Linked DNA regions of Homo sapiens: region 1 is linked to region 2. The links come from fine-mapping of genetic effects on gene expression. Tissue or cell type: whole blood. Region 2 holds a variant in brackets; the other region holds the start of a gene. All regions are shown on one strand. Distances are from middle to middle.

Region 1 (5,211 bases), 150 kb before region 2:
TGGGAGGCTGAGGCGGGCAGATCATGAGGTGAGGAGATCAAGACCATCCTGGCTAACACGGTGAAACCCCGTCTCTACTAAAAATACAAAAAAAAAATTAGCCAGGCGTGGTGGCGGGCACCTGTAGTCCCAGCTACTCAGGAGGCTGAGGCAAGAGAATGGTGTGAACCCAGGAGGCAGAGCTTGCAGTGAGCTGAGATCACGTCACTGCACTCCGGACTGGGCGACAAAGCAAGACTCCGTCTCAAAAAAAAAGAAACGGAGTTAAATATCAAACGGCCAAAAAGTACTACCAAACTTTTAAAACAATGCACGCACTACACACTTTGAAAATTGAAAATATTTAAAAGAAAAAATTGGCAATAAATATTTTGATTGGAAAGGGTGATGGTTATAAAAACATGATATAAAGATGTGTAAGAACCCAAGAAACAATGTGGCTTCAAAAGTATCAACACCTACTGCAAGACACTGAGTGATACCCACGGCCCAGGGCTAGGCCAATGCCCCACTAACCTGGGTCCCCTCAAAACCCTCTGCCCCCAGCCTTCAGGAGCTGCTGGCTCCCACCTGTCAGAACTCAGTTCTGGTTGTATGGAGAGGTCTGAACCCACCTTCCGTCCTCTGGTCCAGCTCTCGCATCAGCTGGAAGTTCCTCTGAAGTTCGCAGGGAAGGTTCTCGATACCTGAAACGCAAAAACACAGAAGCCATGTACCTCTCAGCAGCAAGACAAAAATTCACCTCCAAAGGTTTTCTGTCTTTTTTTTTTGAGATGGAGTTTCACTCTTGTTGCCCAGGCTGGAGTGCAGTGGTGCGATCTTGGCTCACTGCAACCTACACCTCCCAGGTTCAAGTGATTCTCACGCCTCCGCCTCCTGAGTAGCTGGGATTACAGGCACATGCCACCATGCCCGGCTAGTTTTTGTATTTTTAGTTGAGACGGGGTTTCACAAGGTTGGCCAGGCTTGTCTCGAACTCCTGACCTCAGGTGATCCGCCCACCTCGGCCTCTCAAAGTGCTGGGATTACAGGTGTGAGCCACCAGGACTGGCCAAAAGTTTTATACTTCAAGTCTACAAGCCCACTCTGTATTCTGTCTCTGTCAGGGTTTGCGGAGCGGAAGGACTGTGATCTCATTTTTAGATGCAGGTACCAAACAGTGCTGACAAGAGGCTGTGTGCACACTTCGGAAGCTGTCAGAAGTCAAAGAAGGGAGAGGGAAACTTGGAAACCAACAGCACAGGCAGGGGAGGCCAACTGACCCCACCCTCTAGGCTGCCCCCCCTCAGTGAGCAGCATCTTCCAAGGCTCAAGCCAAAATCCCCTGGGTCCTCCTTGATCTTCCCCTACTTTACCCAGAAATCCAGTGCATTGAGCAGTGTAGCCACGCTGCCCACGCGACTTTATGCAAGGATAGAAATGTTTCCTCTCTCGGATGGGCGTGGTGGCTCATACCTGTAATCCCAGCACTTTGGGAGATCAAGACAGGCAAATCAGTTGAGGTCAGGAGTTCAAGACCAGCCTGGCCAACATGGTGAAACCCTGTCTCTACTAAAAATACAAAAATTATCCAGGCGTGGTGGTGCACAGCTACAGTCCCAGCTACTCGAGAGGCTAGGGCATGAGAATTGCTTGAACCTGGGAGGTGGAGGTTGCAGTGTGCTGAGATCATACCCTCCAACCTGGGCAACAGGGTGAGACTCCATTTCAAAAAAAATCAAAAAAAGAAAAAGAAAAGAAATGTTCTCTCTGAGCTGCCCAAGACAGTGGTGGCCATAGGGAGCTACTGAGCACTGGAAATGGGACTAACGCCATTCAATTTTTAATTTTACTTAAATAGTCCCTGTGGCTAGCGCAACCATTCCCCACAGTCTGCCAGGAGGACCCCCGTGCTGCTTTCGCGTCTGCTTTGTTACCCCCTAGACCAGGCCAACCTCCGCCCCCTGCACAGCTGACACAGGCTCCTAAGGGGGGCTGCCTCCTCCAGTCTTGGCCACCCTCCCATCTGCTGTTCACAGTTACCAGGCAATCATTTTAAACCTAACTCTATCTTATGCATCTGATGCTTCCAGCCCCAGTGTTTTCCCAGCTCCCCTAGAGGACAGAGGCACAGCCTCCCGGCTGGCACAGCCTCCCAGACACACACAAAGTCAACCCTCCTTGGGAGGCCAGCCCACTGGCTGGGCACCAGGATAGAGAAGGCCTCCCCTCCAGCGTGCTCCCCAGCTTGACTCTTCTACCCAGGGAACCCCCCACTACTCAGACCCCCAAGAGACAGCGGAGCACATGGGCAGAATCGGGCGTCCCTCTAGGGCAGCGGTCTCCAGCTCCAGGCCACGGCTCACTCGCCACTGTCTCAGCCCCTGGGCGGGTGCCAGGCCGAAGACCATGAGGATCCCCAGTGCAGCGCCCCCACAAGGGCCCTCCAGAGCCACCCGGCACAACCCCAAACACCGCGACCCCAAAGCTGTGCCCATCCCGGGCCGACGTCAGGGGTCCCGCGTGGGGTCTGCCCCTCTACGAGCGGGAGACCCTGAGCAGGCTGCTCGGCAGCGCTGGACCTTCCCTGGTGTGTAAAGTGAGGGAAAGCACCGTCCGCTCAGCCGCTGGGGGCGCCGACCTGCTGCCACCTGGAAACAGCACAGCCCGCCCACCAGGGCCGACTCGGCACCGCCCTCCCCGCCTCCGCGCCGCAGTCCCCAGTGCCGGGGAGAGACGCCCCGCGGCCCGCACGCCCTCCCCAGCCGCGGTCACACAAGAGGCCGGCGCACACGGGCGCACAGCCAGGCGGAGGCCCAGACCCCGGAGCCCCCAAGGCCCGGAGCCCCGCAGCGGGCGCCAGCTCCTCCTGCAGACGGGACAGGGACGGGCGGGACCTGGCGGGGCCGGGGCCGGAGCTGGGGGCGGAGATGAGGCGGGGCCTGGGTAGGGGCGGGACCTAATATGTGGGCGGGGTCGAGGCCGCAAGCCCCGCCCAGCATCGCCAGGCCCCGCCCCGCCGTGACGCACCTGGAATTGGCGCGACCCAGCCGGCGGGACCCCCCGCGCCCGCCCCCCGCGCCCTCCCCTCCCTTGCGGCCCTGCCCCGCCCCGTCCGCGCGCCCCCCGTCGCGCCCGGCCGCGCCCGCCGCCCTCCCGAGCCCACGGGGTCTGCATGCGGTGCCCGGCGCGCGGGGGGCTGCGGCACGGAGGACTCCGCGTGGGCGGCGGGCGCGGGGCCCGTGGGGCGCGCTTACTGTCCAGATAGTGCTCCAAGTACATGGCGGTCGCCATCTTCGTCCGCGGCCGCGCTCGGGGTCTGCGCGGGCGGGCGGTGCCGCGGGAGGCGGGGGCGGGGCGGTGCCAGCGCGCTCACTATTCATGAGTCGCGCGCGCTGATTGGTCGCGCCCGGGGGCGGGGTCGGACACGCCTTTCAGCTTCCGGCGGGCGGCGGGCTGCGGGGCCCGGGCGGAGGTTGTGGCAGCGGCGTCGGGCAGCGAGCAGGACCCAGGGCCGCAGCGGATCGGAGGCCGAGGAGGAGCAGGGGTTCCCGGCCCCACCGCCCGGCGTGCGGCCCAGGGCACCCAGGTGGGCGTCTCCCCTCCGCACCTGTCAGCGACCCCTGGGCCACCAAACGCAAACACGTGGTCCCGGGGACCTCACGCCCGTCCTGACGGCGCCCACGCGACCCCTGCTCCCGGCCGGGTCCCGGACAGGCCGCCACGAGGCCCTCCCTTCCCGAAGGCTCCTTGGGACCTGTCTGGCTCAGCGCCTTTCCCCCGGACCCCGAGCCCCCGGGGCCTCAGCCCGGCCTGAGCCGAGGGCCGGCACCGCGTGGCCCGGGCGAGCTGCCCCTCCCTCAGGGCCTGGGCCCTGGCGCCCTTCCCCCGCCAACGCCGCCCCTTCCCTCCGAGGAAAGCGGCCGCCCCGCCCAGCACCAGTGAGGGCACTGGCTCCTTTGCTGCCACCTCTCGAGGCAGGCAGGACCCGCACCATCTGGATGCCTTGGCCGAAAAGGCACGTGCGGCAGTATGATATAGTTAATAAGATGGCGTGCAAAGGTGTGCCGTAAGATGCATGCAAAAATACTGGAGAAGGCCGGCGCGCTGGCGCACGCCTGTAATCCCATCACTTTGGGAGGCCGAGGCGGGCGGATCACTTGAGGGCAGGAATTTGAGACCAGCCTGGCCAACGTGTTGAAACCCCGACTCTACTAAAAATACAAAAAAAAAAAAAAATTAGCCAAGCGTGGTGGCGCACGCCTGTAGTCCCAGCTACTCCGGAGGCTGAGCCCGGGAGGCGGAGGTTGTAGTGAGCTGAGATCGCGTCTGCACTCCAGCCTGGGCGACAGAGCAAGACTCTGTCTTCAAAAAAAAAAAAGAAAATTTTAAGAAAAAAAAAATACTGGAGAAACATAATTAAAATATGTTTCAGACTCGGCACGGTGGCTCACGCCTGTAATCCCAACACTTTGGGAGGCCGAGGCGGGCGGATCACTTGAGGGCAGGAATTTGAGACCAGCCTGGCCAACGTGGCGAAATCATGTCTCTACTAAAAATACAAAAATTACCCGGGCGTGGTGGCGGGCGCCTGTACTCCCAGCTACTCGGAGACTGAGGCAGGAAAATTACTTGAACTTGGGAGAGGGAGGTTGCAGTGAGAAGAGATCATGTAACTGCACTGCAGCTTGGGTGACAAGAGCAAGACTCCGTCTCAAAATAATAATAATACAAAAACTAGCCGGGCATGGTGGCAAGTACCTGTAATCCCAGATACTCGGGAGGCTGAAACAGGAGAATCGCTTGAGCTTGGGAGGCGGAGGTTGCAGTGAGCCGAGATTGCACCACTGCACTCCAGCCTGGCCAGCAGAGCAAGATTCCATCTCAAAAATAAAATAAAATAGGGCAGGCGCGGTGGCTCACTCCTGTAATTCCAGCACTTTGGGAGGCCAAGGCGGGAGGATCACGAGGTCAGGAGATTGAGACCATCCTGCCTAACACGGTGAAACCCCATCTCTACTAAAACTACAAAAAAATTAGCTGGGCATGGTGGCGGGCGCCTGTAATCCCAGCTACTCGGGCGGCCGAGGCAGGAGAATGGCGTGAACCCGGGAGGCTGAGCTTGCGGTGAGCCGAGATCGTGCCATTGCACTCCAGCCTGGGCGACAGAGCAACACTCCGTCCCAAAAAAAAAAAAAAAAAAAAAAAACTTAGCCGGGCATAATGGCTGGT
Region 2 (5,217 bases):
GCTCACTCAAGGCTGCTGTGTGGTCACAGAGTGGGGCGCAGAGGGGTCCATAACCCAGTGATGCCCACATTCAACATTGCAAATTCAAGCCAGCCCTCAGGCTTGGGATTCTCCCAGCCTAGCCATTCACCTCCTCATGGCTCCTCTCTATCTCATCTCTCATGTGACGGCTGCTTGCCTCCCCCACCCTGGTCCTCTCTCCTCCTTGGCTCAGGCCCTGCCATACAGAGCCAGCCCCTGACGGCACAGAACGGGAGCATCCTGGTTGTCCTCCTGGAAGGCTGCTGTGGCCTTGTGCCGCCTTGGAGACTGAGCTGAGCCCTCCCTCCCACGGTGACAAATGTGTGGTGCCCCCCAGAAGCAGGGCACCTTCCTCTGTGCAGCCACCTGCCCTGGCCGGCTGCAAATCTCAGATGCTGTGAGTAGATCTGTCATCCATTTCCTTTGCCCAGTGGGTCTGAGGCAGATCTGAGACTCTACCCCTAGCATGGAGTGGGGAGGGAGGTCTGCCGGTCTTGGAAGGCTTCCAGAGCCCCCCTCCCTGTCTCCAGTGACTTCCCTCACTGAGGGGTACCCCTTGGGGTAGAGGCCACTCTACCCCGTTGCCCTTGGCAACGCTAGACCCTGAAGTGAGTTGTGTGGGTGATACAGCTTGGATCTGTGTCCCAGCTCAAATCTCCCGTCAAATTGTAAACCCCAGTGTTGGGGGAGGGGCCTGGTGGGAGATGATTGGATGATGGGGGCTGATTTGCAGTGCTCGTGATAGTGAGTGAGTTCTCACGAGATCTGCCTCTTTAAAAGCGTGTGGCACCTTCCGCTTCACTCTCTTCCTCCTTCCGCCTCGTAAGACACGTCTCTTTCCTCTTCGCCCTCCGCCATGATTGTAAGTTTCCTGAGGCCTCCCAGCCATGCTTCCTGTACAGCCTGTGGAACCGTGAGCCAATTAAATCTCTTTTCTTTATAAATTACCCAGTCTCGGCTGGATGCGGTGGCTCACACCTGTAATCCCAGCACTTTGGGAGGCTGAGGCGGGTGGATCACCTGAAGTCAGGAGTTGGAGACCACCCTGGCCAACATGGTGAAACCCCGTCTCTACTAAAAATACAAAAAATTAGCTGGGTGTGGTAGCGGGCACCTGTAATCCCAGCTGCTCCGGAGGCTGAGGCAGGAGAATTGCTTGAACCCAGGAGGCGGAGGTTGCAGTGAGCTGAGATCGTGCCACTGCACTGCAGCCTGGGCTACAAGGGTGAAACTCCATCTCAGAATAAATAAATAAATAACCCAGTCTCAGGTACACTGGGGATGCCATGCCGGGGGTGGGTGGGACTGGGCGGGCGTTCAGCCTGCAGGCCACGGGGGTCGGTGGCAGCAGAGTCCTTGGACTTTGTGCCGGCCACCTCACTCTGGACTGGCCTCTCCACCCACTACCCGGTGGCCTTCAGATGGTCCTTTTTTTGCAAAACCAGGCAGAGGGTTGTGTGGCGAGCCGCCCGGAATCTTTCTGCTGGGTAGTGTGTGTCTGCACGTGCCCCAGGCTGGCACCCCTCCGTCACCTCCCGGTCACTGCAGGCTGCCTCTGAGGAGGGCAGTACCTGCCCACAAAGGCCCACGGAGCCATGGCTTCTTCCCAGTGGTGATCCCTGATGGGCTGGAAGGTGACCGAACCGCTTGTCCTTTATAAGCTGGGCTTGCTGCTTGCCGTTGAGGAAGAGCTTGTCATGGGTGTCAGCGTTTAAAAGTGGAATGTGAGTTTCTGAACGCGCTGGCATTGCAGGGGAAAGTACATACTTGCAGGGAAAAAGACACGAAGGAGACACAGGAGACGGGGGCGGGGAACGGAGGGTTCAGCAGCGGCGGCAGCCTCAGGCATAGGTGGGTCCTGCCTGGCCCTACCACTCCGGCCTCATTCTTTAGAGGGTCTGTTCTGAGCCCAGCCCCTAAGGGGTACTGAGCTGTCAGTATGTGCAGGGGCGTGGATGGTATGAGTGGGCCGGACAGGGTGTGGACCGGCATGGCGCGGCGTGGAGAGGCCAGAGGGACTGGGTGGGGCCGAACACAAGCGGCTCGCAGGAAGCCTCTGGAGTGCAGGGCGTGCTGCGGGTGCAAGAGACAGGCTGCAGCGCTCTGAGGGAGTCCCGCATTCTGAGTTGGATCAGAGCCTGGTGTCTCTGGTGGGGCCAGGACATTCTCATTGGCCAGTTCCTGTGCATGGGGTGACCCAGGCTGCATGGAGGGAGCCGCTTGTGGGTGGGCCACACCTCTCGTTCTCCTTTCAAAATGCTCCTGAGGTAGCAGCTGCCTGGCTGCTTCGCCATTGCCACCCCGTCCCAGCCGCGCCACCTCCTTCCGGACAGCCCCAGCACCCTCAGTGAGACCAGAGCCCCTCCTGCCTCTGCAGCCTCCTCTCCCGCTCCTCGAAGATTACTTTCCTTCTTCCTGGAACATTCTTCCCCCATCTTCAAACTCTGCCACCCGGCGTTTCCTCAGAGAACGCCCCCCACCCCACCCCACGGGTCACCCCCACTCCAGGTTCAAGTGGCCGAGGTGAATACTGGGTGGGCAGGGCAGGAAGTGGGCGGCAAGACACCTCCACCATCCCAGCCCACCCTCGCTGCGGTCGAACCTTCCCACTAGAACTAAAATGAGATTCCTGTGTTTTCACTTGGCCAGCGCAAGCCTTCCTCCTGGGCGGAGGGACCCCCCTGAGGTCTCCCCACCTCCCGTGGGGGGTTTCCCTGTGCCTGGGAGGCAGATGGGCTGTGGTGAGCCCTGAGTGGACTCAGCCAACAGCAGGGGCTGCTGCTATTGTGCCCCCCACCCCCTTAGTGGGTCCCCCCAAGTCATCTGCGGCAGTGAGACCAGCTTATTCTAAACCTCGGAGTCCTTCCTTCCCCTTCTGTCTCGTGGCCCAGAATGTCTACTTCTTCATGAAGCAACGAAATGCTTCCTACCTGCAGTGAGCGATGGGGTGCGCTGGTTCCGAGTCACAGAAAAGCAGCCTCACGCTGCTTCTAGAAGGAAGGGAATGTATGATCTGCGCCTCCAGAAAAGGCACCCCCAGGCCCCGGCCTCTCTCTGGGAGGTCTAGGGCTGGGCCATGTGACCGATGCTGGCATAGTGAGGCTGCCAGAGGATCCTTGACCAAAAATTTATAGCATCCTCAAGCCCTGGAGATGTTTTAAGAG[G/A]ACCAGCAGCAGAAGCTAATAAAGTGGTTAAGTGGGCATCAATTTGCAAACCCTCTCGGCTTGGCCCAGGCCCCTGGATGAGGTCATTGCCCTGGTTTCCAGATCAGAACCCTCCAAGGAGAGGCTTCGAGGTGATGGGCAGAGTCTGCAGTGGGCCAGTTCCAGGGAGGGTCCCTTGGGTGCTTCTGCAAGCACCCCATCCCACCATGGGCAGAAAGCCAGGGACTGTTTGCACCCCAGGAGGCGCAGCACTGCACAATAACCCCTACAGTTTGCACGGGCTGAACGAGGTCCCGTGAGAGCTGCTGTCAGGGCAGGTGACCCGGGTTGCCCCCTCGGGAGAGGTGTGTGGTGCAGAGACAGAGGGACAGGAGCTCCCTGGGCTGGAGGCTCTCCTCCCACAAGCTGCCTGGACCCCCTTCCCCATCTGGAAGGGGGGACGCGCCCCTGGTCTGCTGCTCATGCCGGGATCTGTGGTGACAGATGATCAGATGGGATGTACCTGACCAAGGGGGCACCATACACTTTCTGTGCCAAGGCCTGTGGGCCTGTTGCCCCATTTGCCCAGATGGCTCCCTGAGCAAACAGCCCCTCCCCATTCACTTTTCCCAGAAGCTCATTCCTCTTACTAATGAAGGATCAGAGCTTGGACCAGAAGGGTTTTGTATAAACTCAGATGAGTGCTAAGTAAACAGCCGGGAACCCGCACGGCTGGAGAGTTTGTCCACTAGCCTGGCAGCCAGGCAAGGGCAAGTGACCACAGGCCAAGCAGGGGCCACAGTCTCCTGCTTTTAGCACCCCCCATGCACCGACCCCCTTCCCTCCCTGGCAGGGTCTGGAAGAGTGGGCTTCAGCCAGGCCAGGGGGTCCTGATGCAGCCTCATGTCCAGGCTCAGCCAGGCCAGCCACATCCTCTTCCACTGTGGATAGAGCTGCCCCGGCTGGAACCTACCCCCTCTGGCAGCAACCTGCCAACCCCTTGATATTACAAAATCTTTTTTTTTTTTTTTTTTTTTTGAGACGGAGTCTCGCTCTTTCACCCAGGCTGGGCTGCAGTGGTGCTATCTCGGCTCACTGCAAGCTCCGCCTCCCGGGTTCATGCCATTCTCCTGCCTCAGCCTCCCGAGTAGCTGGGATTACAGACGCCCGCCACTGCGCCCGGCTAATTTTTTGTATTTTTAGTAGAGACGGGGTTTCACCGTGTTGGCCAGGATGGTCTCCATCTCTTGACGTCGTGATCCACCCGCCTCGGCCTCCCAAAGTGCTGGGATTACAGGCGTGAGCCACCGCACCCGGCCGATATTACAAAATCTGTAAGTATTGCTGATCCGGCAGATGAATGGTGACACCAGGTGGCTGTACTGTGCACATCCCAGGCCACCTGTAAGGCCAAGCGTGTTTCATCCCCCTGTTGCTCATTGGACTCTTGGGATCTCTAGGTAGAGAATTTGCCCATTTCTCTGGGAATTTTTTTTTTGTTGGTTATAAATGCTACAGATATTTCTCACCAGACTTTCACTGCAAACTCTTTCTCTTCCTGTGCAGAGATTGCGCATTTTGTCAGAGTCAAATGTACCCATCCTCCGCAGCCTCGGCCTGAACGGGGCTTCCCCGCCCCGAGACCAGGCACTGCTCGCCCAGGCTCTGTCCTGACCTTCTCGGTGTTTTGTTGTTTTGGTGTTTCATGTTGGCCTCATTTTACTTTTATGTGGTATTTGGAAAGGACGTATATCAGGACTCAGGAACTGAAGTGTTTTTTTTGTTTTTATCTTTATTTTTTTTGAGACGGGATCTCTGCAACCCAGGCTGGAGTGCAGTGGCGCGATCTCAGCTCACTGCAATCTCTGCCTCCCAAGTTCAAGCAATTCTCCTGCCTCAGCCTCCAAGTAGCTGGATTACAGGTGTGCACCACCATACCCAGCTAATTTTTGTATTTTTAGTAGAGATGGGGTTTCACCATGTTGTCCAGGCTGGTCTCAAAATCCAGACCTCAGGTGATTCACCCACCTCAGCCTCCCAAAGTGCTGGGATT

The links. PIP is the estimated chance that this variant, and not a neighbour inherited with it, causes the effect.
Region 1: ING5 starts here. The variant in region 2 is fine-mapped to the expression of ING5 in whole blood (TOPMed, PIP above 0.99).

Annotation. Positions count from the first base shown.
Region 1 is chr2:241,700,128-241,705,338 of GRCh38, reverse strand. It overlaps ING5 (inhibitor of growth family member 5), which reads right to left and starts at 3,300. Exons shown (of 8, transcript NM_032329.6): 1 at 3,237-3,300; 2 at 615-686. The coding sequence starts at 3,273. RefSeq lists enhancers at 2,182-2,811, 3,050-3,882 and silencers at 2,537-3,096, 3,281-3,444, 3,187-4,006.
Region 2 is chr2:241,549,212-241,554,428 of GRCh38, reverse strand. All of the region lies in intron 1 of BOK-AS1 (BOK antisense RNA 1), which reads left to right. It overlaps LOC105373974 (a long non-coding RNA gene), which reads left to right and starts at 1,588. Exons shown (of 3, transcript XR_924069.3): 1 at 1,588-1,745; 2 at 4,371-4,498. It also overlaps a transcript of BOK not described here. RefSeq lists a silencer at 2,246-2,484 and an enhancer at 2,154-2,964. The variant G/A (reference allele first, on the strand shown) is at 3,186.